Homo sapiens: one gene and its partners. The protein of the gene in region 1 interacts with the protein of each later gene in a biochemical or structural test. Each region holds a gene or a part of one and is shown on either strand. Other genes may lie near its edges. The genes, in order: CARD11, CLDN1, AGMAT, NRXN3, SBF1, SLCO1A2 and ARHGEF26.

Region 1 (3,500 bases):
CAAGGAGACCCTGGGCGAGGGGGGTCATTCCCACCTCCAGACACGAGTGCTAGACTGCGTTCAGTTTGTGAAATTCACTGAGCTGCATGCTTAGAATGCTGTGTTTATGTTCTATTCCAATGCAAAGTTTGATGTTTTATTTATTTAGAGACTGGGGCTCGCTCTGTTGCCCAGCCTGGAGTGCAGGGCATGATCCCGGCTTACTGCAGCCGCGACTTCTAGGCTGAAGCAACTCTCCCGCCTCTGCCTCCCGAGTAGCTGGGACTACAGTTACTCACCACCATGCCCAGCTAATGATTTTCTAATTTTTTTAGAGATAGGGTCTTGTTATATTGCCCAGGCTGGTCTCGAACTCCTAGCGTCAAGCAATCCTCCCACCTCCCAAAGTGCTGGGATTGCTGGCATGAGCCACCATGCCAACATTTGGTGGAATTTTTTTTTAAGTGATGCCTTCAGCAAAGCAGAAATTGCCCTTTCTCAAAATGATGAGCTCATGGTTGAGAACCTTGCAGATACTCCTGGGACCTGCCAGCCTCGCCGCCTCACCCTTCATGTGTTCCCTACCCTCTTACTTGAAGGCTGGCTAGGGTAGCAGGTGTTTTGGGGTGTGTGTGTGTGTGCGTGTGTGTGTATGTGTGTGTGTGTGTGTTTGAGACAGTGTCTCACTCTGTCACCCAGGCTGGAATGCAGTGGCACCATCTCGGCTCACCGCAACCTCCACCTCCCGGGTTCAAGTGATTCTCCTGCCTCAGCCTCCCGAGTAGCTGGGATTACAGGCGTGGGCCACCGCACCCAGCTAATTTTTATACTTTTAGTAGAGACAGGGTTTTGCCGTGTTGGCCAGGCTGGTCTCGAACTCCTGACCCCAAGTGATCGGCCCGCCTGGGCCTCCCAAAGTGCTGGGATTACAGGCGTGAGCCACCACGCCCGGCTGGTAGCAGGTGTTTCATTCAAACTCATTCACGCCACCTGGTTCACCCCGTCCGGGGCCTCATCTCTGCCCATGAACATCACTGTGGTCAGCAGAGTCCTGGAGTGTCCAGACTCATGTGGGGGTCTCATCTCCTGGATCAGCGGCAGGTGGCTTTCAGGGCTCCCGCCCCGCTATAGACCCCAACCCTGCATCCAGGCCCCGCTGCAGGCACCTTCACAGGAGCGGGAGGTGGGTGGGCTGCTGCTGACCAAAGCCGCTGTGCCCGCAGAACAAGCACTGCCTGCTGGAGGCTGGGATCGGCTGCACAAGAGACTTGATCAAGTCCAACATCTACCCCATCGTGCTCTTCATCCGGGTGTGTGAGAAGAACATCAAGAGGTTCAGGTAGGGCTCCCAGACCCCTAAGGGCTGTCCCCTCCTGTCCCTAGCACCCCACCAAGCCTCCATGGATCGCAGGAGGCCTGTGTGCCCCCACCTCATGCACCCCTTTTGTAAACCCTCACCAAGTACGGGACTGACCTTGCAGAGCTGATGCCAAGGACAGCGGCCGAGATGGTGACTCACATATGGGGCGCATCCCAGGGGACAAGAGCTGGGAGGGACGGGGCGGAGTGCCCATCACCCAGGGTGGTCCGGGAAGGCCTGGGGTATCCATCAGCGAGACCCATGGCAGTGAGGGGGGCCTAGGAGATGAGAAAGAAGACGCAATCTGGGCAGCAGGGGAACAGCTGGTGCTCAGACCCTGAGACAGATGTTTGGGCGGAATGGTGAGGGACGGAGGGGTGAGGGGCGGAGTGGTGAGGGACAGAGGGGTGAGAGGCTGAGGAGTGAGGGGCGGAGGGTGAGGGACGGAGAGTGAGAGGCTGAGGGGTGAGGGGCGCAGGGGTGAGAGGCAGAGGGTGAGGGGTGGAGGGGTGAGGGGCGCAGGGGTGAGGGGCGGAGGGGTGAGAGGCTGGGGAGTGAGGGGCAGAGGGTGAGGGACAGAGGGGTGAGAGGCTGAGGAGTGAGGGGCGGAGGGTGAGGGACGGAGAGTGAGAGGCTGAGGGGTGAGGGGCAGCGGGTCCAGGCCATGCAGGGCCACGGGAGGCTGCGACATCTTGTTCTGGGTGCATCTGGAGGCCACTGAAGGTGGCATGGTCCACTTTAGGGTATAAACGCACCTCTCACCTCTGGACACGGGCAGGGTGGCGGTGTGGGCCGGGCTTCTGTCTGAGAGGCGATGAGAGGCAGTCTGACTCCGAATCCGTGTTCAGGGTCGAGCCTGCAGGATTCGGGAAAGGGTTCACTCTGGGGTTCCAGAGAACCAGAGGCTGGGCGCGGTGGCTCACGCCTATAATCCCCACACTTTGGGAGGCCAAGGTGGGCACATCAGCTGAAGTTGGTAGTTTGAGACCAGCTTGGCCAACATGGTGAAACCCCATCTCTACTAAAAATACAAAAAAAATTAGCTGGGCGTGGTGGCGGGCACCTGTAGTCCCAGCTACTCAGGAGGCAGAAGCAGGAGAATCGCTTGAACGTGGGAGGGGCAGGTTGCAGTGAGCTGAGATCGAGCCACTGCACTCCAGCCTGGGCGACAGAGTGAGACTCCATCTCAGAAAAAAAAAAACAAAAAAAAAAAAACGAAAGGACGGCGCTGAGGTTTGGGGCCTGGGTGATGAGGACAGACTGGCCCTTAAGTGGCTTCATCTCGGATCCCCGCCCCTCCTCGCACGCACCTGCAAAATAAATGTCCTGCCACCATTTTGCAGAGGGAATCACAGACTGAGAGTTTAGGCCCATTCATTCCTTTTCACCAGATACTCACTGAGCCATTGTGAAGGGTTAGGCTCTGGGGAACGCAGCAGTGAGCAAAAGAGACGGGCATCCCCCTCGATACCTCACACCCGTTAGGCTGGCCAGGACCAAAAGGACAGAAACTGACAAGTGTTGACGAGGAGGGTAGACGTCGGAACCCGGTGCACAGCTGCTGGAAATGCAAAAGAGAGCGGCCACTGTGGAGGACAGCATGGCGATGCCCCCAAAAATTAAAAATAGAATACTATATAATCCAGCAACCCCACCTGCGGGCATATCCCCAAGAGAATTGAGAGCAGGGTCTGTAAGAGACATATACACGCCCGTGTTCACAGCAGCGTTACTCCCAATAGCCAAAACGTAGACGTCACCTAAGGGTCGGTCTGTGGGGAGTGAATACACACAATAGGGCCCATCCATACAGGCTAGGAAGGTGGCAAGAGCTGAAAACCTTGCAAACTGTTAACAAAAAAAGAGTTGAAACAAAGAAACAATAATACATTTAATGCATGAGAAATACTAGCATGGTACATACCCCCTTCCCTGATCTGTCCTGCCTGGGAATGTGTTTATGGTGCAGTGTGTATCACAACAAAAATACTGTATGGAGTATTTTTTTTTTTTTGAGACGGAGTCTCACTCTGTCACCCAGGCTGAAGTGCAGTGGCACGATCTCGGCTCACTGCAGCCTCCACCTCCCAGGTTCAAGAGATTCTCCTACCTCAGCCTCCCGAGTAGCTGGGATTACAGGTGCCCACCACCATGCCTGGCT
Region 2 (4,108 bases), on another chromosome or scaffold:
GAAATGAAGGTGGTGGGGCTTGGCCTTTCTTCCCATTCCCACCTTGAGAATTTGCACCTTTCCTTCTCTGTCACCAACTAGCAGTTGCCATGGTATATAAGGGTATATCTTATTTTATCCTTAATATGTTTATTTCTGCTTCCAAGATGCTTCTGTTTTTACTAAAACCATAGAAGCTTCCCCTCCCACCACACTCGCACCACACACAAAAAGCAGTTGGAAAAACATTTCAATGATTCCTAACCACAACAGCACTTCTGACTAACTACAAAGAAGGAAGCTTTGGAGAAACATAGAGGGAAACTACAGTCCCAGCGAGACCGAAACCGGAGGGGTGAGATAGCCAGTCACAGTAAAAGCTGGAACCAGAGCCCAGACTTCCTCAACTCCAGCCCAGTCCTTTTGCCACTGGGGAAACGCTGTTTACATGTCCTCACCTGCGACGAACAACATTTGATAACTCACAAAATTAACACCTTTCAGGGAGAGCGGGGCACTGGCCAGGTCCCTCTGATAATGAATTGCTGCTCTAAGACATAACTGCTGTGGGGAGGAGGTTGGTGTTTGGCGGGGAAGGGCTGCTAGCCTGCAGTTTCATAAGGACAATAATACATCAAAAAGGACAATCATAGATCAAAGGGGATATTTTGGGTCAACTTGATATGTAGTGGAAAGCAGATTGGGAGGGGAGCCAAGTACTGGATATGCTCCGTGCGTGAGTGTGTCTGTGTGTGTGTGTGTGTGTGTGTGTAAATCATGTTGCTCTCTGGGTCTGTTTCCCAATCTGTAGAGTGTAAAAGTCTCTGAGGCTCCTTGCAGAGACAAGTGATGGAACGACCTTGACAGAAGAGAGCAGAGAGAGGAAAGAAGGGGGAGGAAGCCAAGCAAAGGAGAGAGAAATGGTGTGATGGGGGAGGAGACGCGGAGTTGGGTAGAAATGCCTTTTAATAAGATATTGGGAAAAAAGTATTAAACCTAAAACTGCAGCTCTTGAAGGATCATTTTTTCATCTTTGTGTTAGGATTTACAAGTACAGTGCATAGTAATTTTTGGATAATTGGAGTGAATGAATGAAAAGCGTGAAACGCCTTACAGGAGCGAGAAGATCCACGAGAGAAAGCGAGCAGGGACGCAGCTCTGGTGCCTGGTCCTGCCGGGTGGTCCCCACGCCGCCAGCCGCGCGTTCCCCAACCGGGCGCTCCCGGCGCCCTCTCGGTGAGCCGCCCTGAAACCGCCAGGGGGCGCTCCCCGGCTGCCGGGGCTGAGGCGGGCGGAGCTGCTTTAAATCGCGGCGCCCAGCGGTTCTGCGTCTCAGTTCCCGAGCCTGGGAGCAACCGCAGCTTCTAGTATCCAGACTCCAGCGCCGCCCCGGGCGCGGACCCCAACCCCGACCCAGAGCTTCTCCAGCGGCGGCGCAGCGAGCAGGGCTCCCCGCCTTAACTTCCTCCGCGGGGCCCAGCCACCTTCGGGAGTCCGGGTTGCCCACCTGCAAACTCTCCGCCTTCTGCACCTGCCACCCCTGAGCCAGCGCGGGCGCCCGAGCGAGTCATGGCCAACGCGGGGCTGCAGCTGTTGGGCTTCATTCTCGCCTTCCTGGGATGGATCGGCGCCATCGTCAGCACTGCCCTGCCCCAGTGGAGGATTTACTCCTATGCCGGCGACAACATCGTGACCGCCCAGGCCATGTACGAGGGGCTGTGGATGTCCTGCGTGTCGCAGAGCACCGGGCAGATCCAGTGCAAAGTCTTTGACTCCTTGCTGAATCTGAGCAGTGAGTGCACCCCCACCTCACAGCGGCCGTCCAGAGGCCCCAGTCCCCCTGCAGCTCCCTTATGGGCTCATTCTGTTGTGTGATTCCATGGTTATCAGTCTTCAGTTGATCAAGTCTTCTGATCATGTGCTCTGTCATAAGGAAATGAAGAGAATCCTGGTTTGAGGAAAGCGACGCCCAGGCATAAGCTCTAGTTTTGCCTCTAACTCCCTGGGTGACACTTCTGCCACTCTAGGTGTGGCTTCATCCTAAATTCCTATGCTGGTGGTTCGAGTTGAGGGAGTGAAGGCCAAACTTGAACTTGAGCTCTTAGACCTCTCCTAGGCATTCCGAGATTTGGGGTAAATTGAGGATTGGTAGAGTTCAGACAAGAAAATGGGATGACTGAAAAAGTTTGAAGCCTGGTAACTTCTCAAGTGTGCACGCTTAAATAAATAATCCTCAAGTATTAGATATAACTTTTTAACCTTTAATATGATTTTTTCATAGTAAAAGTTACATTCCTACTGGAAATGTCCTATCTAAGTGTCTTCTGCTTATGCTTGAGGTTGATTCTTTTAATTTATAAGATCCAGTTAGTGCAGGGAGGCCCCTTGCAAGACTCTTTGGAGAAGCTGCTTGAGATTCCCCCGAAGTTTTAATTTTCAGACCCAAGGTCTTCTGTAGAGGCTGACGGTGTAGTGCTATCTTGGAAAGAGAAGGTTGGTGGCAGGTGGGGAAAGGCTGACAAGAAAGGTTCTAAATAACCTGCGCAACATAATACAAAGAAAAAAGTAAAGGCACTGAAGGGAAATGCAGCAAAATAGTCATAGCTGATGAAATCAGAGGTCAGCTGGGAGTGGAAGGCAGTGAGAGAGAAAGAAGAGGTGGGTCTTCCTTAGGTTTCCATCTTCCACAAAGAAATTTCTGTGTAATGGATGTTCAGTGACCCCCTGTAAAACTGGAAAGGATTGTATAGAGAGACATATTTCTAAGGATGGTGGGAAGAAGGATAATAGGATAATTGTTTTACTTTGTTTTTTAAATTAAAGGTTTCGAGTTCCTTGTCCGAAAAGTCATTAAATTCCCATTTACTTAGATAATAATGATTCACGGCTGGAGTATCTTCCTTGAGAAATCACATTAATTGTCTTATATCATGTGTCTGTTATGCCCTTTAACTCACTTGAAGAAAAGATCCCTTAGTCTTTGCCTAGATGAACGTGACTGCCCACTGGCCCCCATTGCATGCTAAGGGTGAAAAGTGTTGGCATTGTTCAAGTTTACTTAACTTGTTTTGTCTACCTCCTATCAAGGGACAACTTTTAATAGTGTATATCAAAAGCCATATAGTTTAGAGTTATTAAACCTGTTCCAAATCTGTTTGAACACCTTGAATACCTGTGGCATTTGCTCAGTCAATGTGCATGGTTGTTTTGAGTGTTATTATTTCAGCTTTTGAAGGTTCTCATATCAGGACTTCTTTACACCAAAACCAATCCATAAGTTTAGTAATTATGTGTTGCTCATTGCCCTCAGGGGTTATATTTGTACTTATAAAATGAAAAATTTGGTAATAATTATTGAATTTCTCCATGGAAAGATAAATATATTTAAGGAAACGGTGTCAGGCATTTTAGGTACCACGTTAAGGAATTGGCAGGTGGAGGTTTCTAAGGACAATTCCAGAGAGGTCTCACTGTCAGTTTTATTCCTCTGATCAAAATAGTTCCTTTTCAACATCTTTAAATAGGTTTTCTTTTAACTTCCTGAAATGACCAAATGAAATCAGATTGATCTATGTTGTAAATACTCAAATGGATCATCCTTACACATGATAATGTGTTAAAATGTTTTACTTTCATTTTTTGGTTAATGTAGTTATTACAGTTTTTAAAACTAGGGTGAAAGGACTAAATACCTACCCCCCCACACACACTTTAGAGATGTCTTCCTATTTTTTTAAAACTCCAGATCAGAATCCACTTTTATTTTACTTAAAGCCATAGTTTATCCAAGGTGTGGCTTAGGCCTTTCTCTCAAAACCCATTCTCAGAAGAGGGACCCTTGACTCACAGGTGTTCTCCTCTCACCTGCCGTGACTCACGGGATGCTTTTGGATAGAACCCAGGAAACCTTACTTCATTTCTCTGCCTGAGCAGTGGTGTTTACGCCCACCAGCTGTAGAGATCTGGGATGGTGATTCATTGGCTGGTTTTGGTACAGTTTTGTTACATGTAGAGATGAAAAGGGTTATGTGTGTATATTTAAGCAGTATCACTCAGAAAAAAGCTGCATTTCATTAAGTGTGTTTAGGTGAAAAGCTTAGCTGTGGGTTTCCCGAAATTGTACCTTGCC
Region 3 (4,142 bases), on another chromosome or scaffold:
GATCCGCCCACCTCGGCCTCCCAAAGTGCTGGGATTACAGGTGTGAGCCACCGCGCCTGGCCTAATGTGCAACCTTTGTGTAGAGGTTGCAACGTAAATGCAAATGTGAGCCTTTTCCATTCAATCTCAACATTTAGAGATCAGAAAAAATAATATATATAATACTGCTAAATGGCTCACATAATTCCATTACAAATCACTTCTTTCTTTCCACGTGTGTTTTTCTTTCCCCTTAGAAATAAAGAGGATGTAACAGGTTCTCTGGCACTGTGACCTTCCTTACAGCTTGCCTGTAAGTCCTTTATTTATTTATTTATTTATTTATTTATTTATTTATTTATTTTTGAGACGGAGTCTTGCTCTGTTGCCCAGGCTGGAGTGCAGTGGCCTGATCTCAGCTCACTGCAAGCTCCGCCTCCCGGGTTCATGCCATTCTCCTGCCTCAGCCTCCCAAGTAGCTGGGACTACAGGCACCTGCCACCATGCCCGGCTAAATTTTTGTACTTTTAGTAGAGATGGGGTTTCACCGTGTTAGCCAGGATGGTCTCGATCTCCTGACCTCGTGATCCGCCCGCCTCAGCCTCCCAAAGTGCTGGGATTACAGGCGTGAGCCACCGCCCCTGGCCTCTAGTCCTTTTTTAACAAGGTTATTTAAAAAGACTTTACTGGCCAGGCGCGATGGCTCACGCTTGTAGTCCCAACTACTCGGGAGGCTGAGGTGAGACGATTGCTTGAGCCCAGCAGTTTGAGGCTGCAGTGAGCTATGATTGTGCCACTGCACTCCAGCCTGAGCAACACAGCAAGACCCTGTCTCAAAATAACTAGCTAGCTAGCTAAGTAGCTAACTAACTTTACTGCTTCTTGAGATTCCTATCCCTGGACATTTAAAAATACATTATTTAAAAAAATGCATTTCCTATTTTTCTGGCTTAGAGAAAGATCATTTTCCTTCATATCTTTCTGGCTTTAAAAATATTACTCTGGGGTGGCTGCTGTGGCTCACACCTGTAATCCCAGCACTTTGGGAGGCCAAGGTGGGAGAATCACTTGAGTCCAGAAGTTGGAGACCAGTCTGGGCAACACAGTGAGACCGTCTCTATAAAAACAAACAATTACTCTGAATGGGAGAAGAGGCTGCTGAAGGCCACAGTGGGGAGCAGGGCGCAGACACCCCTGGCACAGTGCCGGCCAGTGGGCACCCCCAGCCTGACTCTATTTGCCAGAGGCTGAAGTCCAGAGGGGTTGAGGGGAGAGCACGGCAGGTCCTGGGGCCCCTCCCCCGCCTTGATCCTAGGGCGCCCCTGACCTTTGAGCCGGCTCGGGTTCCGGCTCTGGCGCGTGCACACTCGCCTCGCCGTTCGGGACCAGCCAGATCGCGGCGGCCTCGCGGGCGGTTTGGTCGGTGAGGTCTTGGCCGCGCGCGGCAATGCTGAGGCTGCTGGCGTCCGGGTGCGCCCGGGGCCCGGGGCCCGGCGTGGGCGCGCGTCCTGCCGCAGGGCTCTTTCATCCGGGGCGCCGCCAGAGCCGCCAGGCTTCCGACGCGCCCCGGAACCAGCCCCCCAGCCCCGAGTTCGTGGCCCGGCCGGTGGGCGTCTGCTCCATGATGCGCCTGCCGGTGCAGACCTCCCCCGAGGGGCTGGACGCTGCCTTCATCGGGGTGCCCCTGGATACTGGGACCTCCAACCGGCCTGGGGCGAGGTAAGGCCGGAAGGACGGGGGCCGGGTACACGTGGAGGGACTGCTTGCTGGCTGTCGGGCATGGAAAGCACCGAGACAGGCGCCCCTGCTGGCCCCGGGTCGAGTTGGAAGCTGGTGGCCGGCTCCAAAATGCCCCTTATGGTTTGAGATGGTTGATTTACCTGGACCCTCAATAAGCAAACCCCAGGGCTCAACATGGGCGTGGCCTCCCACATCTTAGTGTCATCATTGGTCAAGAAGGGATTTTGGCCGGCCCGGTGGCTCATGCCTGTAATCCCAGCACTTTGGGAGGCTGAGGCGGGCGGATCACGAGGTCAGGAGTTCGAGACCATCCTGACCAACATGGTGAAACTCTGTCTCTACAAAGGTACAAAAAAAAGAAAAAAAAAGCCGGGCATGGTGGCGCGGGCCTGTAATCCCAGCTACTCGGGAGGCTGAGGCAGGAGAATCGCTTGAACCCGGGAGACGGAGGTTGCAGTGAGCTGAGATTGCGCCACTGCGCTCCAGCCTGGGCAACAGAGTGAGACTCCGTCTCAAAAAAAGAAAAAAGAAGGGATTCTGGAGCCTGAACCTTCTCTGTGTCCCCATCCTGGGGCCTTGCTGGGATGGCTGCTGTGGATTCCTCCCCTCTCCTCTCCCCAGCTTACAGTGGCAGGTGACATTGCATTTGAGAGCAGAAACTGGCTGCCCCTTCCCCAAATCTGAAGATGTCACCTGACTCAAGAAATGCTCAAATGAAGGCAATTTTCCTAGGATCAAGTCGGAGGAAGCAAAATTCATCTTCCTAGTTATTGAACGTCAGCAATTTCTGATTCAGCTCAGCAACACTATATCTGACCGTACTGATCTGAATTATGAAAGCCAGCACTTATTAAATGTCTCCTAAGTGCAAGGTGCTTTGCATAGATTACCTCATTTAATTTTTACTACAGTGCAAGGTAAATATTTTACAAATTAGGAAACTGAGACTCAGGTAGATCATGAAATTCACTAATGCCATTTAGTACACTTATTTAGTCTCTTCGATACATAGCCTAGATCGGTGATTCTCAAGTGGGGCGGTTTTGCACTCCGGGGACATTTGGCAGTATCTGGAGGCGTTTTGGGTTGTTACACCTTGGAGGAAGGGTGCTACTGGCACCTAGTGAGTACAGGCCGGGATGCTGCTAAGCATTCCATTATGCAATGCCGCGACACGGAATCATCTGGCCCCAAATTGCTGAGGCTGAGAAGCCCTGGCCTAAGCAAAGCCTGAAATCTCTGCAGATGATGGCTGACAGGATGATTCTTCCTTCTGCAGATTCGGACCTCGCCGCATCCGGGAAGAATCAGTGATGCTTGGGACAGTCAATCCTAGCACGGGGGCCCTCCCCTTCCAGTCCCTCATGGTTGCAGACCTAGGCGATGTGAATGTCAATCTTTACAACCTTCAGGACAGCTGCCGGCGAATTCAAGAGGCCTATGAGAAAATTGTAGCAGCTGGCTGTATTCCTCTGACCTTGGGTAATGTCAGTCTGCAAGAGCCAGAGTAGTTCCCTGCACTCAGGGTTTACTTATCCTGTACTCAGGGGCTTGAGTACAGCTACTTCTCCCCTGCAAGCCACTGCAAATGTGCAGACAGTAGGAAAGAGAGCATTGTAATTCATTTATTTTAATCCCTGGGGAGAGAATATTTCACGTGTGTGTGTATGTGTGTGTGTGAGACAGTCTCACTCTGTTACCCAGACTGGAGTGCAGTGGTGCAATCTCGGCACATTGCAACCTCCACTTCCTGGGTTCAAGCAATTCTCCTGCCTCAGCCTCCCAAGTAGCTGGGATTACAGGCGCCCACCACCATGCCTGGCTAATTTTTGTATTTTTGGTAGAGTCGGGGTTTTGCCATGTTGGCCAGGCTGGTCTTGAACTCCTGACCTCAAGTGATCCGCCCACCTTGGCCTCCCAAAGTGCTGGGGTTACAGGCATGAGCCACCGCGCCTGGCCAAGATGATGTTTCTAATGACTTTATTTGCGAGGAGAACTGCAAAGAGGGTGTTTTTGTCCTGCTCAGGGTCTACATCAACCTATAGGGCAGCTTTCCCCTTATCCTCACCCCTGACCCACTCTCACTTTTTCTCTTGTTCACAAATACTTAAAATGACAGGGATCTTTTCCTAAATATCCAAATTCATTTTTGCCAAGTTAGAGAGCCTAGCCTGCATGGCATAGTGGGAGGAGTGTGGTTTCCCGATGGCATGGTTTGAAGTCTCAGCTGCACTTCTCCCTAGCAATGTTGCTGTATACCGTGCTTGATGCTTCACACCCTCACCTGTAAGATGGGAATGATCACAGTAACACCTACTCACTGCATGATGTGAGGGGCATATAATGAAAGTGCACATGAAATGCCCAGCATCAAGCATGGCATATCTTTTTTTTTTTTCTTTTTTTTTGAGACAGAATTTCAC
Region 4 (3,500 bases), on another chromosome or scaffold:
ACTGAGATACAGAAATCCATCGGCACCAGCTTTGGGGGCATGGAGAGGCAGCGGAGAGATGGGGGACGGGTTGTCAGTCTTGGATGAACAGTGGAGCGGTCGGGTTGGCGTCTGGGCATTGTGTGTGCTTGTGTCTCTGTGTGTGTGTGAAATTTTTTCATCCCACCACCAATCTCCCCCTCCATCCTCCCCCAATTCTGCCATGATCTTGCCTTCTATTTCCACACACTGCTCCCCCCACCCTAGGCGCACCCCCCCTTCCTCCAGCCCTTTCCATCTTCATGAAAAAAATTCTGATTTTGATGGCTCTGCGGCTCTTTTTTCCCTTTTTCCTTGCTTTTTTTTTTTTTTTGCAACACAACAGTCGTGCGATGGCCTTTCCTACATGCCACACGGATGCAGCCTTCTGATAGGAGGGCAAAGTCGGCACATCCACACACACACTGGCATACGCTCTTGCACACACAGTCTCTGTCACATACACAGGCGCCAAGGGCTTCATTTTGCTTGGTTTCATTCCCCTTAACCTCTTTCCCCACTCTACCTCCACCATGGCTCCTTCCCCCCATCTTTGCATGGGGACTGCGGTCACGTTAGAGCCTCTTTTCCTCTCCGCAACCGCGGTCTTCTTTCTTCTCGCCATTATTCTTTCCCTAAAGCTGTCGTGTGTCGCAGTTCATGGGATTAGCATGTTGGAGAGTCTTTGTGGGAGGGGACCTCACAAGCAGGGGATTGGAATGGGGGTAGATAACATTAATAATTTTTTTTGACCAAATAAGCACCCAGTGATAATGATCCAATTTAACCATCCATGAAATATATGTTTGCGGTACATTGGAGGAAGGTTATGTGGGGGAGGCAGAGTCTGACGGGGTTACCTCCGGGGAGATTTGATGCCTGGACAGTAGAGCCACAGCCCCCTCCCCCATACACATGTGTACACTCTCTCACACACACCAACACGCACAGCTCTGATCAGTGGGCTGTGTCGAACCAGAGGGCACTGCAGAATATCCCAGAGAGTTGTGATGGTTAGTTGGGAGGATGGAACAATGTCTTTGTCCGACCCAGTTCTCCTCTCTACAGATGATTCTGGGTCTTGAAATTCTTGGTGGCCTTTGTGTTGGTTTACGGGTGGGGACTGGAAGGGTGTTTGTGTTTTGTCAAGCACCAGCGTGCCTCCAATTGGACAACATAGGATTGTCAACACTGTGCGTGTGGTTCAAGCAGGAGGCTGCCTGCCTCTTTGTGTGGTGTGGCTGTGTTTGTTGGATATGTGCGTATCCAGCCTCATACGGTGGCTCTGGACAGGTGTGGTAGTGACGGGGAAGGAAGGCAAGAAGCAGGGATGGTCAGTGGGGAAGAGTCCTCAAGGTAGTTGAGAGGAGGGTAGAGGGGAAGAAACTGCTCCTGCCTCCAGCAGGAAGCCTCAAATGAGATCCCCACGTCCACCAAGCGAACCCGTGGGTGGGTGGCTCATGGATGACTGGTGGGCGGATACAGATTGAAGGGGGAGAAGGGGATGAGGTGGGTGAAATTGAGGGTTTTCCCTGCTGCCTTGACAGAGCCTGGGGCTGAGCTCGGGAGGGTGGTCTTGCTCCCCTGGCATCAGCCACCTCTTGGGCGGCTCGGCCTTGTTGGAGGCTGCAGCCTGAAGGAGCTGAAATCACCCTCGGCCGTGAGAGCAGCCCAGCCCCTGTTTTCTCCTGGGCTCTGGCTGCCTTAACTACCGGACGCCATTTTCCCATCTTCAGCTGAAGGTGTGTCTCTCTTTATTAGTAATTATAAGTGAAATTGGAAAACATTTTGCCTAAAAGAAAAAAATCACAAAATCCTCAGAGCAAAATGCTGATGGTCTTACCTTTCTAGCATCCCTCTCCCTTCTTGGGGCTGACCCTGAGGAGTTAGGGAGACAGGGTTACGTCATTGCCAGAGAAAGGGGATAAATGGGGAGTAGGATGCCTTGGGGGTAAATTATTGTGCCCAATGCAGAGAAGAGATTGTTCTTGGTATCCCCCGGCCGTGTTCTCCTTACATGACCCCTCAGGTGTGGATAGGAGACTTGCAAAAGAAGAAGCATTCCTTCTAAAACCTCACTGCCTAGAAATGTGCTGGCCCGTGGTCGGCTGTGGTCTGGGACCTGCTGTGGTCCGGTTCCTGCTGTGGTCCGGTTCCTGCTGTGGTCCGGGACCTGCTGGGGGAAGAACTGTTGCGCTGCAGCTCTGAGCCTTGAGGGCCAGCTCTGTTGCTCTGAGGATGAAGCAAGTGCGGTGCTGTGGCTGGGCCAGCCACAGGTGGCCATGCTGGGCTCGGGGCAGGTTGGCCATGCTGAGCTCGGGGCAGGGACTATGGATGGGGCCCACTCCCAGCCCTTTCCTGCAGGTTGTTCCTCAAATTATACTCCTCAGAGAGACCTTTCCTGACCAGCTTTCTAAAATAGTCCCCTTACCCCAACCTCCTGGCTGCTTTCCAGCCCATGACACTGTCTTTAATTTTAATCGGTGAATCATTATTTAATATTATATTATACGATGATATATTGAAACATTTAAGATGGATCTCGTCTCTTTACCCCTCTAGAATGCAAGCTCTGAGAGGTCAAGGACTTTGTGTTCATTGTGGTGTTCCTAGTGCGTAGGACATTTCCTGACACGTAGTAGGTGCTCAACAAATGTTTGTCGATTGGAGGAAAGAACCACATGGGTTTAGTGTTGGAGTTTTCTTCTCTAGCACTTGTGGCCTGTCTTCTGGGAAGGGTGGACTTTGCCTCTGGTTGTCTTAGCCCTGCCTGAATGTCTAGATCTGCTGGAGGAATTGCAACATGCTCAACTTCAGTAGTTTAGTAGAAAGGGCTTCTCTATCCCTGGCTCAGATGACTCTGCCTCCTTTGAGATCCCTCTAATATTAGTAATCACCATTCTCATCATCATCATAGTAGTGGTAGTAATAGTCGTGATATAGCTATCATTTCTGCAGTAGTTACTATTTACAAAGTTCTCTTCCAAGTTTTTTTTTTTTTTTTTTTAACACTCGGTATCTCATTTAATTCTCCAAACAACTCAATGCAGTATACTATTATTACCTGAGGAGACTGAGACTTAAAGTTACCTAATAAAATGACAGATCGAGGATTTGAATTCAGATCTGTCTCATGCCAGAGCCCAAGCATGGGACCCTTATGTTATAGTGTTAGAGGAAAAAGGGAGATGAATCATCTGTCATCTTATTCAGTGCCCTCAAGTACAAATGACAAGATGGAGGCCCAGAGAGACTACATGGCTTTTCCAAAGTTATGCACCACGTTTGATGCAGAGACAAAACTAGAATCAAGGTTTCCTGGCTGCCAGGGTAGGGCTCTTTCTACTCCATCATGCTGCCTGGTGGGCTGTGGGCCCTTTTCCAAGGGTATTGCAGCTGCTGCTGTGGGGGCTGCCTGGGGTGCCTTCTTAGTTCTCTTTCTTCAGAGGGGAGTGAGGTCTTGGTGGGGCAGGTGGGTGGTA
Region 5 (3,268 bases), on another chromosome or scaffold:
CAAAGAAGCCTTTGATGGGGGGCTGCAGGCCCAAGAAGACGACGCCCAGAAAGGAGACAGTGAAGGGCGCCTCACACCCTCCAGACTCCAGGGAGCATCCCCACACCAGAGCCTCAGGGTCTTGGGAAAGCAGCCCCCTACACAGGGCAGGCGCCCTTACGAGGAGAGGGATGGCCAGGCAGGTAGATCTGTAGAAGCAGCCACGGCAGCAGCTGCCTGGGATGGATCCTGCCAGACTCCAGACTCACGGGGGCCCCACCACTGCCCTCTCTCTACTCCTCCCTCAGCCACTGCAGGCTGTGGTCAGCTGTGGTCACCAGTTCGACACCCCAAACCCCTCCCAGTGGTGGTGTATACTTAAGCAAGCTCCTCAAAAGCACCCGCAATCTCCCACCAGAGGACTGCCTGGGACCCCAGAACACCAGCTCAGAGGTGTCCATGTGGCAGTGGGAGGTGCCCTCATACCTGTTCTCACTCTCTGCTGTCTGGAACTGGCTGTACAGGGTGCTGGTGCTGCGGCGGGCAGCCTGACGGGAGCCGGATGTGGTTGAGCCACTACTCTGGTCGCTGTCCAGGCTGAGGCTCAGGGTGGAGCCCACGGGCCCCTCCTGCAGGTACACACCCAGCGAGCGACGGTGGTGGGGTGCGGTGGACACAAGGAGGGAGCTAGGGGTGCCCTGGGAACAGGAGGTTGGGACTTGGGTCAGGGCTGGACAGACTCCACTTTCTCCCAGCAACACGCCCACCGTGGACGCTCACACTGGCCCTCACTCACACGGCCGTCTGGCCGGCCCTCGAGGCGCTGTGCAGCCTTCACCCGGTCCCAGGTGTCCTTCCAGCGCTCAGCGGGTTGGCCCAACTCTGTCTCCAGCCTCTGCAGCTCCTGGGGGAAGAATTAATGGCAAGTTTATTCAAAAGGAAATATCCAGACTAGAGCACGAAAAGACAAAAGGAAAACACAGGAAAGAGACACAACGGAAAGGCCTAACGCGTGTGTGACTGGCCACAGGGGGAGGTGGCAAGAGGGAGGGAAGGAATATGCAAAATGAATATTCGGAGACAACAGTTGAAAAATTTCCCAAACTAACCAGAGGCATCAAACAACATAATCAAGAAGCACTACAGACCCCAACAGGGTAAGTTAAAAACACACACCCCGGCCAGGCGTGGTGGCTCACGCCTGTAATCCCAGCACTTTGGGAGGCCGATCACCTGAGGTCAGGAGTTTGAGACCAGCCTGACAAACATGGAGAAACCGCATCTCTACTAAAAATACAAAAAGTTAGCCCAGCATGGTGGCGCACGCCTGTAGGAGAATCGCTTGAACCTGGGAGGCGGAGGTTGCGGTGAGCCGAGAACGCGCCACTGCACACCAGCATGGGCAACAAGAGCAAAACTGCTTCTCAAAAAAAAAAAAGACCACACAATACTGATCTTCAACACTGCAGGGTCCACAATGTCCAGCTTACAATAAAAGAACAGCAGAAAAATGGAGAAAAACATTAAAATAGACCCTGAAATGAAACAGGAGTTAGAACATACAGTAAATTCAAGAGAGTGATTTTAGGGCCAGGCGCGGTGGCTCACGCCTGTAATCCCAGCACTTTGGGTGGCCGAGGCGGGTGGATCACGAGGTCAGGAGTTCAAGACCAGCCTGGCCAAGATGGTGAAACCCCAACTCTACTAAAAATACAAAAATTAGCCGGACGCAGTGGCAGGCACCAGTAATCCCAACTACTCAGGAAGCTGAGGCAGGAGAATCACTTAAACTCAGGGGGCGGAAGTTGCAGTGAGCCGAGATCACACCACTGCCCTCCAGCCTGGGCGGCAAAGTGAGATTCTGTCTCAAAACACACAAACACACACACACACACACACACACACACACACCCCAAAATGGGACAGAAAAACTGCTGAAAAACAAAGAGAAAAGTCCCAAAACCTGCCAGAAGAAAAAAAGACATGCTCTCTTTGAAAGAGCAACAATAAAACTGACGGCTGACTTCAAAAGAGAAACACGAGGCCAACTGTCAACTTCCAGCCATGACAGATAATTAGTCTGAACAGCCCTCCCTCCATATGCAAATGATGAAACTGGACAAGAAGGGGAAGCCGTTGTTTCCAGATGTCAGACAAGCAGTGCAGCTTGAGAGACAGGAGCCTAAGACATGGGACCACATAAGATGGGCCCCACAGTCACCTGTTTTCTGCCCAGCCACAGTGCAGGGAGGCAGGGCCAGAGCAACACACGGGAGCTTGCTGAGCCGAGGAGGCAGAGACGGGACGTCCAGGGGCGCTAGTGCAGCTGGGTCTGCAGGGCAGCCCACAGAGGGGAGGGAGCACCACAGCAAAGGGGCTCTAGAAATCTAGACAGAGCCCTCCTTGAGTCGTTGGCCAAATTAGGCTGCCATGTGCAAAGCAAGATGTCACAAGGCCTGGCAGAGAACAGCTACTAAGAAGCTATGACCTGACGCCGGCAGCAGTGGCTCACACCTGTAATCCCAGCACTTTGGGAGGCCAATGCGGGTGGATAACCTGAGGTCAGGAGTTCAAGACCAGCCTGGTAAACATGGCAAAACCCTGTCTCTACTAAAAATACAAAAATTAGCTGGGCATGGTGGCGGGCACCTGTAATCCCAGCTACTCGGGAGGCTGAGGCAGGAGAATTGCTTGAACATGGGAAGTGGAGGCTGCAGTGAGCCGAGAGTGCGCCACTGCACTCCAGCCTGGGAGACAAAGTGAGACTCTGCCTCAAAAAAAAAAAAACAAAACTATGAGCTGAACCCAAATTCTAGAGGAATGCTAAAAGATACTGGACTTCCAAAAAGCCAGTGTGGCAAGACCTTACCGAAGACACAAAGACACAAAACTCCAACTGAAGCCCTGGAGAGGCCACACGCCTTGGGCTGCTCTATCCCTGGAGCTTCTCTAGAGGTGCTGGAGAGCTGCCCAAACAAAGCTTAGAAACAAGCTTCAAACAGACCAAGCTGACGCACAAGCTCATTACCTACCTGCGAGAATAAAACCCAAGACTCTAAGCTTAAAGAAAGACAACACAGGCAGGGCACAGTGGCTCCCGCCTGTAAGCCCAGCACTTCGGGAGGCCGAGGAGGGAGAATCGCTTGACCCAAGGAGTGTGAGAACAGCTTGGGCAACATGGCAAGACCCCATCTTTATATATATTTTTAAGTTATGTTTCAAGATTTAAAAGAAAAGATGGACATAATGGTTTATCAGATGGGGAATCTCTACAATAAAAAGCGTTAAA
Region 6 (3,961 bases), on another chromosome or scaffold:
CCTGTGAATTTTTTCACCACTTACATACCAAGCAAATTGCATTTCCTTCTACACTGTCTGGTTCTATTCCAATGTGTTTTATTTAAAAGTTTTATCTTTCCCAATGAAAGTTTAAGTTCCTTGGAATCTGGGTCCAAGTATCTTCCACAGAAACATACTTCTCTCGCTAGTTTATACTCTCTGTAGGCACGTACTTGGCTTTCTTGCTCACTGCTGAATGCTGGTGCGTAGCACCATGACTGGCACAGAGTAGATGTTCAATAAGTATTTGTTGTATCTGTGAGAGAATGTGTTAAAATAACAAAACTCAAACATAATAGTGCAGCGACTATGCCTTGATGTGTGTGTGTTTGGGATTCAGCACATTTGTAGAGGTAAAGCAGTTGGTTTTTTAAAAAATTAGTGCCATTCAGGATCACTTGTTAAATGGATATTGTTTAAAGGACTTAATTAATTAATGCTGGGGATACTGTTAAGAAATCATTCTAGAAACTAGAATAAATATTGCCAAAGTGAAACACTTTGGTTTTGATACAAATTATTGCCTTAGTTTCAAGATGTAAAACAAACAAAATCTTTGATGGGATTAGTAGAATTTATTTGAGTTTAATTCAACTTTTTGTTTTACATATAAAAATGTGTGCCTGTATGTTATACATCTGTACATATATTTCCACATATATCTATACCTATTACGTATAGCTACATATAGATACCCATTTATATGTTTAATCTCCTAAGTCTTACATCTTAGTTTGCAATCGTGGGATTATTTTCCAGATCATAGAATTGTTTGTTATTTTTACTAGGTTGTTTTCATGATTAAAATTCCGTGTCTCCCCAGGTTTCCATGTATCAGCAGTGCCCCAGAAAGTGTTTCCCTTCCTGAGACTCTAGGGAAGCCTTGGAATGCAAATAACTTGAAAAGAGAGCCTGGCCAAAAAAAGATTTTTGAGCCTTGGTAGGGTTAGTGAAGCAGGTTTTTAGTACAAACACAACTCAAAGTATGTGTGTTATTAAAAGTAGCTATTTTCATGGAAGTCTTTTGGTACTATTTGTTTTGGCTAGAGAAGTGAAAAGCTTTCTTTTAACCATGTGACCATTATTTTGCAAGATCATAACAAACAATTCTAATATCTTTAATCTCACTAAAGAGTCACTAAAGTTATTTGATGTACCTTTTGAAATAGAAAACCAACAACTAAATCTTCTCTAACACCATGATTTTCTAATCTGTATTAAAGCGTTCCAGGTATTTTTGTAATGCAATGGATTTCAATTATGTTGTTCATTTTCAGCACTTACTTCAAAAGAATGATGCTTTACAATTTTGTAGTTAATTTAACATATTTTTTTGTTTGCTTGAAAGGGTAGAAGTAAGACATATCAAGATTTAAAACATAAATAGCTTGGAACACCCTGAAGAGCAACATGGGAGAAACTGAGAAAAGAATTGAAACCCATAGAATAAGATGTCTTTCCAAGTTGAAGGTATGGAATTTTTGTATGTGGATATATGTGCATGTACACTAGTTTTTAAAATACGACAGTCCTGGTAAAATTGCTCCTATCTGCATGAAGTGATCTAATATTAATGCCATATTGCCTGTTCTATTGATAATTTCTTGCTTTAAAGAAGTTGGTTTTATAACTGAGGGTGTGTCTACACAGGATTATTGATTCAGGCAAGTTAGTCCTAAATGGCTTTGAGAGACTTAAATGGAAGACAGGATCCTAAAAATTTCCAGGCACACATACTGTGGCAGGATTTATTTTTCTGGATCAAAGGCCATGCTCACTCTTGCAGGGTTTCTAACCCAGAGAAATGTGGGAGTCACTCTCCGAAAATGGCTCATTGCACAGAAATGCTTTGTTGATTTGTATGCAATTACCCAGCAAAACAAATGTTTTCTTTAAGCTTTGGCAACATAACAATAATTTCCTGTAAGAAAAATGGCCATTTTGTCAGCTGTTCTGATTTTTTTTTCTATTTCAGAGAAAATTCTGTTTTCTAGCTTCAAAGTCATTTATATTCAAACAAATTTGAATTTATGATAAACCAAGGGATCTGGACATTTGTCCTGATTCTATAGCTAGTGCCTGCAAGTGGTTTCAAAACTAAGACACTGTCACTCATTTTCTCCCTATCAGAAGTTTGTTTTCCATTTATATGTGTGTTGGGGAAATTTAAACATGTATACAAAATTGGAGAATTATGATATAAATCTAAAAAAAATAGACTTGCCTGAAATGGTATGTTAATTAAGAAAAACTTTTTGTGCTTCAGTTTTCTCATCTGAAAAGGGTAATAGCAACATTCCCACCTTATAGGATTCTTTTATGTTTGAAACAATGACTGGAATATTGTAAACTTTCAATAAATATTAGCTATTAATATTAAAAGCATTTGTGGAGAAAAGTCAAGTGGTATTTATAAACAAGAGGTCTTTAATTTTTGATTGCTTTGGAGTTTAGCAAGGTTAGATATTAATGTGGATGTTAAGACAAAATGCTGTAAGCACAAGTTTATCAGGTAAAAGTGAGAGGCAATTGCTTAATAGCAAGTTAGGTTTCTCTGTTTCTCTGAACTTAGAAATATACTCATTAAGCAAAATTCATTAGGAAGCATGAAAGAACTATTTTTAACAAATTTGCTTTAAACTTTGTTGTTGAAATAAGTTGAAAGGGCATTATTGCTAGAAGCTAGTAGGACCAGCTTTATAAATACAGAGATTATTTAGCACTAGACATGAGTCAGAATAGCCACTGATTTCTTTCACTCTGCGAATAAAACCAAACTAGTTAGGCAACCCATGTGTTTTAGGGGAAAAGCAATGAGGTCATGATCCATCTAATTTCTTTTCTTAACATGTAAAGTAGAATAAATTATTTTTCCAAATTTGATTTGTACTTGATTTAGTAGGACTTGCTTTTAAATATAAAATCTGATTTATAAAACTAGGTGAAAATAGTTTGCTCTTAAGAATACACTCTGAGAAGGTTTATAGTGGGAAGAGAGAATATCCACAAATGGTATTCAATATAAAAAATAGCTAGAGATATGGCCATACTATGCTGTAGTCAATCAGTTTTGATTCATATTAAGAATGCTATTCAAATTTCTAGGTCCTTTTCACATAAATTTCTATTTAGGTCTCACAAAAATAATTGATAAATTTTGGCTTAGATGTATTGTGTGGTGTGAATGTGTCCCATCCAAATTCCCATGTTGAAATCCTAATTTCTAAGGTGATGGCAGTAGGAAGTGGGGCCTTCGAGAGGTGATTAGGTCACAAAGGTAAAGCCTTTATGAATGGGTTCAGTGGCTTTATAATAGAGGACTAAGAGAGATTCACTGCATTTTCTGCCATGTGAAGACACAGTGAGAAAGATGGTAGTTTATGAATCAGTATATACAGCCTCTAAGCCACAAATAAAATTCAACCCTCCCACCCCCTGCTCCCAGCACTGAATGGACCTCCTCTTGGTCAAGAGCCTTCCAAAGTTAGTCTAAAAAACAAGTTTAGGCTGTTATGGGAAGGAGGTGTTGGACATGCCTCTTTATACCCTCCTCTCTTTTGGAATTCAGGAATAACCAACCATCATTAACATCAACACAGACCTTAAGTCTGATAAGAAACATTTATATCCATTCTCTATGAAGCCTGCGTATCTAGAGGCTTTATCTGCATGATAAAACCTTGGTCTCCACAAGCCCTGATTGTAAACAGGAAATAATTTTTTATTATTGATAATAACTCTTCCAACCAATTGCCAATCAGAACATTTTAAAATCTACCTGTGACCTGCAAGTTCCTGCTTTGAGTTATCTTGACCTTCCCAATTGAACCAATGTAAATCTTACATGTATTGATTGATGCATTATGTCTTCCTAAAATATATAAGAGCAAGCTGTACTCCACCTTGAACACATGTTTTTAGGACTTCTCTGAGGCTATAC
Region 7 (3,500 bases), on another chromosome or scaffold:
TTGATGAGCAGCTGGTAAACTTGGAGCACATATAAGACAATCAAAGGAAGTCTCCATATAAACTTCTCCATGCAAGGAAAGATGGTTTTTCCATTTGCCCTTTTCTGAGCACTTTAACTTCCTCATTACATGTTCCAAATTGTTTCAGAGACTATATAAACCATATGTTTGTTAAACGATAGAGACAAACATGGGGAAGTCTGATTAGCATCAGCTTCCCTCAGGAAGGGGGTTTCTTTCCCAACCCTGTTTAGCCTGCTCCATACTTATTGGACATGGGGTAAATAAGCAGAGATGGGAAACGGGCTTTAAACAGCTGCACCTGGCTATAGAGTTTCTGCTCCTCTTTCTACTGAAGCACTACTGTTAAATGGAATTGTTTCTTTTTATAGTAGATTTCCTAAAAGAGCAGTAAGGAAGGTGTAAAGACCTACATTATTTATTGCATAATGCAGAAGTTTACTGGCCTAGACGAAGTAATGATATTGGATATTGGGTGATAGTAAATTACTTTAAAAACAAACAAAAAGGCCAACATGTTTCCTGCATTTTGTTTTGGACCCAGAAGTCCAGTGGGCCAAGTTCCTTGTTCAGGCATATTCAATGACACAACTATGCAGATGTGTGGAAATAAACACTTGAGGTGAAATCATATAGCTGTGATTAGGGCAGCCACAGTTTATCATTCAAACTGGACATTTGAGAGGACTACAGGCATAAACTGAGCCCAGCAGCCATCCTGGGTCTTAATCAGTGGCATTGTAGTTGTCATTGCTTAAGAGAACAATTAATAAACATTTTAAAAAAGTATCTACTTCTGTCTTTATCCCCCAAAGACAAGAAATTAAAGCATTTATGACTGAAAATTGAAAAAGAAGCTGGCTGGGTGTGGTGGATCAGGCCTGTAATCCCAGCACTTTGGGAGGCCGATTACTTGAGGTCAAGAGTTCCAGACCAGCATGGCCAACATGGTGAAACCCTGTCTCTACTAAAAATACAAAAATTAACCAGGCATGGTGGTGCATGCCTGTAATCCCAGCTACACGGGAGGCTGAGGCAGGAGAATCACTTAAACCTGGCAGGCGGAGGTTGCAGTGAGCTGAGAGTGCACCACTGCACTCCAGCCTGGGTGACAGAGTGAGACTCCGTCACACACACACACACACACACACACACACACACACTTAACTAGTTTATTCATATTAGCTTATATTCATTTTCTGTGAACCCTTGGTTTTGAATTCTATTGGGATGACTTGATAGGTGAAACCACTTTATGTTGACAACATTTTCGAATTTGAGTCATCTCAAATGATGACTTTATAGCATATTCATTTCTTTGACTTTTATTTCTTTGGAAATACCTACAACGCCTACACACATGTCATTGTTTAGGGCCTTACCCCATGTTCACAATATTAGGTTGCTTCCATTTCTCTTTCTGAAGCAGAATTGTTTTTAAACAGAAACAGGTGCCTTTGACTAACAGGTTTTTTAACTTGTAAATTGGACCAAAAGAGTAATCATAAGGGGCAGAGAGAAAATAGTAACAAAGAAGCCTCAGTTCATCCTCTTTTTCTCTTGTTTTTGATGCTGTTGTTGTTGAGGTTTTGTTATGTTTGCTGTTTTATCCTGGTTTTGGTTTTTATCCTGAGTCCTATGCTGTTCAATGCATGTCTGATATAGTATCTATACAACATGATAAACTTGTTCTGTGTTGCTAAAAATTGACTGCTTTGTTTCTAGTAAACATAGTCTTTTAAAAAATGACCGTATTTGTTTGTAAAGCGTATTATTCACCTTCCTCTTTTTATAAACATCATGTCTACTTTGATAAGTCTCATTTTGGATGTGAGAAATATTTGACATATCCAAGTGTGGGTGTGCTGGTCTGTAGGCAGTCTCAGGAGAACTTTGGAGATAATCGTGCCACACAATCTTTTAATTAATACAGATTACTATCCTAGGAACAATTAGGCTTGATCAGAAGGCAATATTTTGCTTTTATAGATAACTGCATTTGCTGTTTTTTGAGGGCAGAATCTATCAAACCAAATTTTAGAAAAGATTATAAAGTTTTTCAAGGAGCATGACAAAAGAGTGGTTGACAGGTAGATGTCCATTCTGAGGAAAATAAATTCCAGGAAATCTTGAGCAAAGTGGCCTGTTCTGAAATTCCTCCTAGTGTACTGGACTAGGCACAAGGAGTTTTCTTTTCTCTAAGCTCCCCTGACATCATTCATTTGCATTTATTATTAAATGAGGTAATTATTCGATATTCCTAGCGTATATTAGAATTTATTGCATATTCATCCACTTATGTGACAGTTATTTATTGAGCACTCTCATGTTCACTCGCAAGGGTGCAGGTGCAGAGTAGAGGAAAAGCTGTATGTCACCAGGTTCGGGATTTGCCAGGCAAATACAATCAAGGAGATGAATGTGTATGCAAGATGTGATTTAACTGGGTACCAAGAAATGCAAGCTAGCTAATTTAATATGCATGAACAAGAGGACATGAGGGAATTAAGGGGGGGAGGCGGAAGGTTGTAGAGTCAATGGGTTGTAAGAACTGGTGAGTTAAATAATGGTTGGTGTTGAGGATTAGAGGAGGTGAGTTGGAAAGAAAGGCCATGCTGGTTAGAGAGTGGTATGTTTGACACTGGGATTACAGAGAGTTTGTAGTTGATGGTAATGACAAGGACTAAGGTATAACCATGGATTTGTGGCTGAAGTAGGGCAGAAAACAAGATCATCGGAGGAGAGTAAAGTCGGGGAATTGAGGGTACAGGGTAATGGAAAGATCCTTTACAGGAGACTTCAAGAAAGAAGTAGTGTTGGGGACTTGATGTAAATGACCGAGAGAGAGAGGGAGAGAGAGAGAGAGAGAGAGAGAGAGAGAGAGAGAGAGTGTGTGTGTGTGTGTGTGTGTGTGTGTGTGTGTGTGTGTGTATGAAGAAGTATTGTTGGAGAGAGACAGAGAGCCAGCAGTGAAACTCAAGGGAGAGGATCGGAAACGATCCAGGGGTCTATAGATGACTGTAGTTATGAGTTAGAGACTGATGCCATGAGCTTCAAAGCTGATGATGTTTCAGGAGGAGGAAGTGATCATTGTATAGAAGCAGGAATAAAAAGCAAGCAGGCAGAGAGCTCTCAGGAGACGCCTTGTTCTCTAGGGAGAGCCAGGTTTCTTTTAAGGCAAGAATGTGAAGGGAGGGTTCAGAGACGAGGCCAAGTATTTAGAAGACTTTACTAGTTTCTTAAATGAGGGAATTGCATTCCCAGAGGGTACAGTGGAAGGGGTTCAGGAACCAGCTGAGGAGTGGAAAAAAGTGGGGCCAGATTGGGCATGTTCACAGTGCGATGGGAATGGGAGTGCAGGAGAAAGAAGGATATTGGGGTTCCTGAGCCTAAGCAGGAATGGAGGGCATAATGAGATTAGTCCTGGTGGTTTGTGAAACAGGTGGTGAGGCTCTGAGTGTGGGACACAAGGATGGGTT

The links.
Region 2: the proteins of CARD11 (region 1) and CLDN1 interact in a test that uses a peptide from one of them, tested with the Homo sapiens proteins (one large-scale study listed by IntAct).
Region 3: the proteins of CARD11 (region 1) and AGMAT interact in a test that uses a peptide from one of them, tested with the Homo sapiens proteins (one large-scale study listed by IntAct).
Region 4: the proteins of CARD11 (region 1) and NRXN3 interact in a test that uses a peptide from one of them, tested with the Homo sapiens proteins (one large-scale study listed by IntAct).
Region 5: the proteins of CARD11 (region 1) and SBF1 interact in a test that uses a peptide from one of them, tested with the Homo sapiens proteins (one large-scale study listed by IntAct).
Region 6: the proteins of CARD11 (region 1) and SLCO1A2 interact in a test that uses a peptide from one of them, tested with the Homo sapiens proteins (one large-scale study listed by IntAct).
Region 7: the proteins of CARD11 (region 1) and ARHGEF26 interact in a test that uses a peptide from one of them, tested with the Homo sapiens proteins (one large-scale study listed by IntAct).

Annotation. Positions count from the first base shown.
Region 1 is NC_000007.14:2,907,868-2,911,367, reverse strand, and holds part of CARD11 (caspase recruitment domain-containing protein 11), read left to right. Parts: intron 1-1,202; coding exon 1,203-1,318; intron 1,319-3,500. UniProt on the Homo sapiens protein: Adapter protein that plays a key role in adaptive immune response by transducing the activation of NF-kappa-B downstream of T-cell receptor (TCR) and B-cell receptor (BCR) engagement.
Region 2 is NC_000003.12:190,319,647-190,323,754, reverse strand, and holds the start of CLDN1 (claudin-1), read left to right. Parts: upstream 1-1,308; 5' UTR 1,309-1,548; coding exon 1,549-1,771; intron 1,772-4,108.
Region 3 is NC_000001.11:15,582,252-15,586,393, reverse strand, and holds the start of AGMAT (guanidino acid hydrolase, mitochondrial precursor), read left to right. Parts: upstream 1-1,342; 5' UTR 1,343-1,426; coding exon 1,427-1,698; intron 1,699-2,998; coding exon 2,999-3,201; intron 3,202-4,142. UniProt on the Homo sapiens protein: Hydrolyzes linear guanidino acids to form urea and the corresponding amines. Displays specificity for substrates having a negatively charged head group and short chains including taurocyamine, guanidino propanoic and butanoic acids.
Region 4 is NC_000014.9:78,173,373-78,176,872, forward strand, and holds part of NRXN3 (neurexin 3), read left to right. Parts: intron 1-3,500. UniProt on the Homo sapiens protein: Neuronal cell surface protein that may be involved in cell recognition and cell adhesion. May mediate intracellular signaling. Functions as part of a trans-synaptic complex by binding to cerebellins and postsynaptic GRID1.
Region 5 is NC_000022.11:50,447,768-50,451,035, forward strand, and holds part of SBF1 (myotubularin-related protein 5), read right to left. Parts: intron 884-3,268; coding exon 776-883; intron 678-775; coding exon 466-677; intron 1-465. UniProt on the Homo sapiens protein: Acts as an adapter for the phosphatase MTMR2 to regulate MTMR2 catalytic activity and subcellular location. Promotes the exchange of GDP to GTP, converting inactive GDP-bound Rab proteins into their active GTP-bound form.
Region 6 is NC_000012.12:21,332,118-21,336,078, reverse strand, and holds the start of SLCO1A2 (solute carrier organic anion transporter family member 1A2), read left to right. Parts: upstream 1-1,161; 5' UTR 1,162-1,252; exon of another isoform or gene 1,253-1,369; 5' UTR 1,370-1,431; coding exon 1,432-1,491; intron 1,492-3,961. UniProt on the Homo sapiens protein: Na(+)-independent transporter that mediates the cellular uptake of a broad range of organic anions such as the endogenous bile salts cholate and deoxycholate, either in their unconjugated or conjugated forms (taurocholate and glycocholate), at the plasmam membrane.
Region 7 is NC_000003.12:154,236,390-154,239,889, forward strand, and holds part of ARHGEF26 (rho guanine nucleotide exchange factor 26), read left to right. Parts: intron 1-3,500. UniProt on the Homo sapiens protein: Activates RhoG GTPase by promoting the exchange of GDP by GTP. Required for the formation of membrane ruffles during macropinocytosis. Required for the formation of cup-like structures during trans-endothelial migration of leukocytes.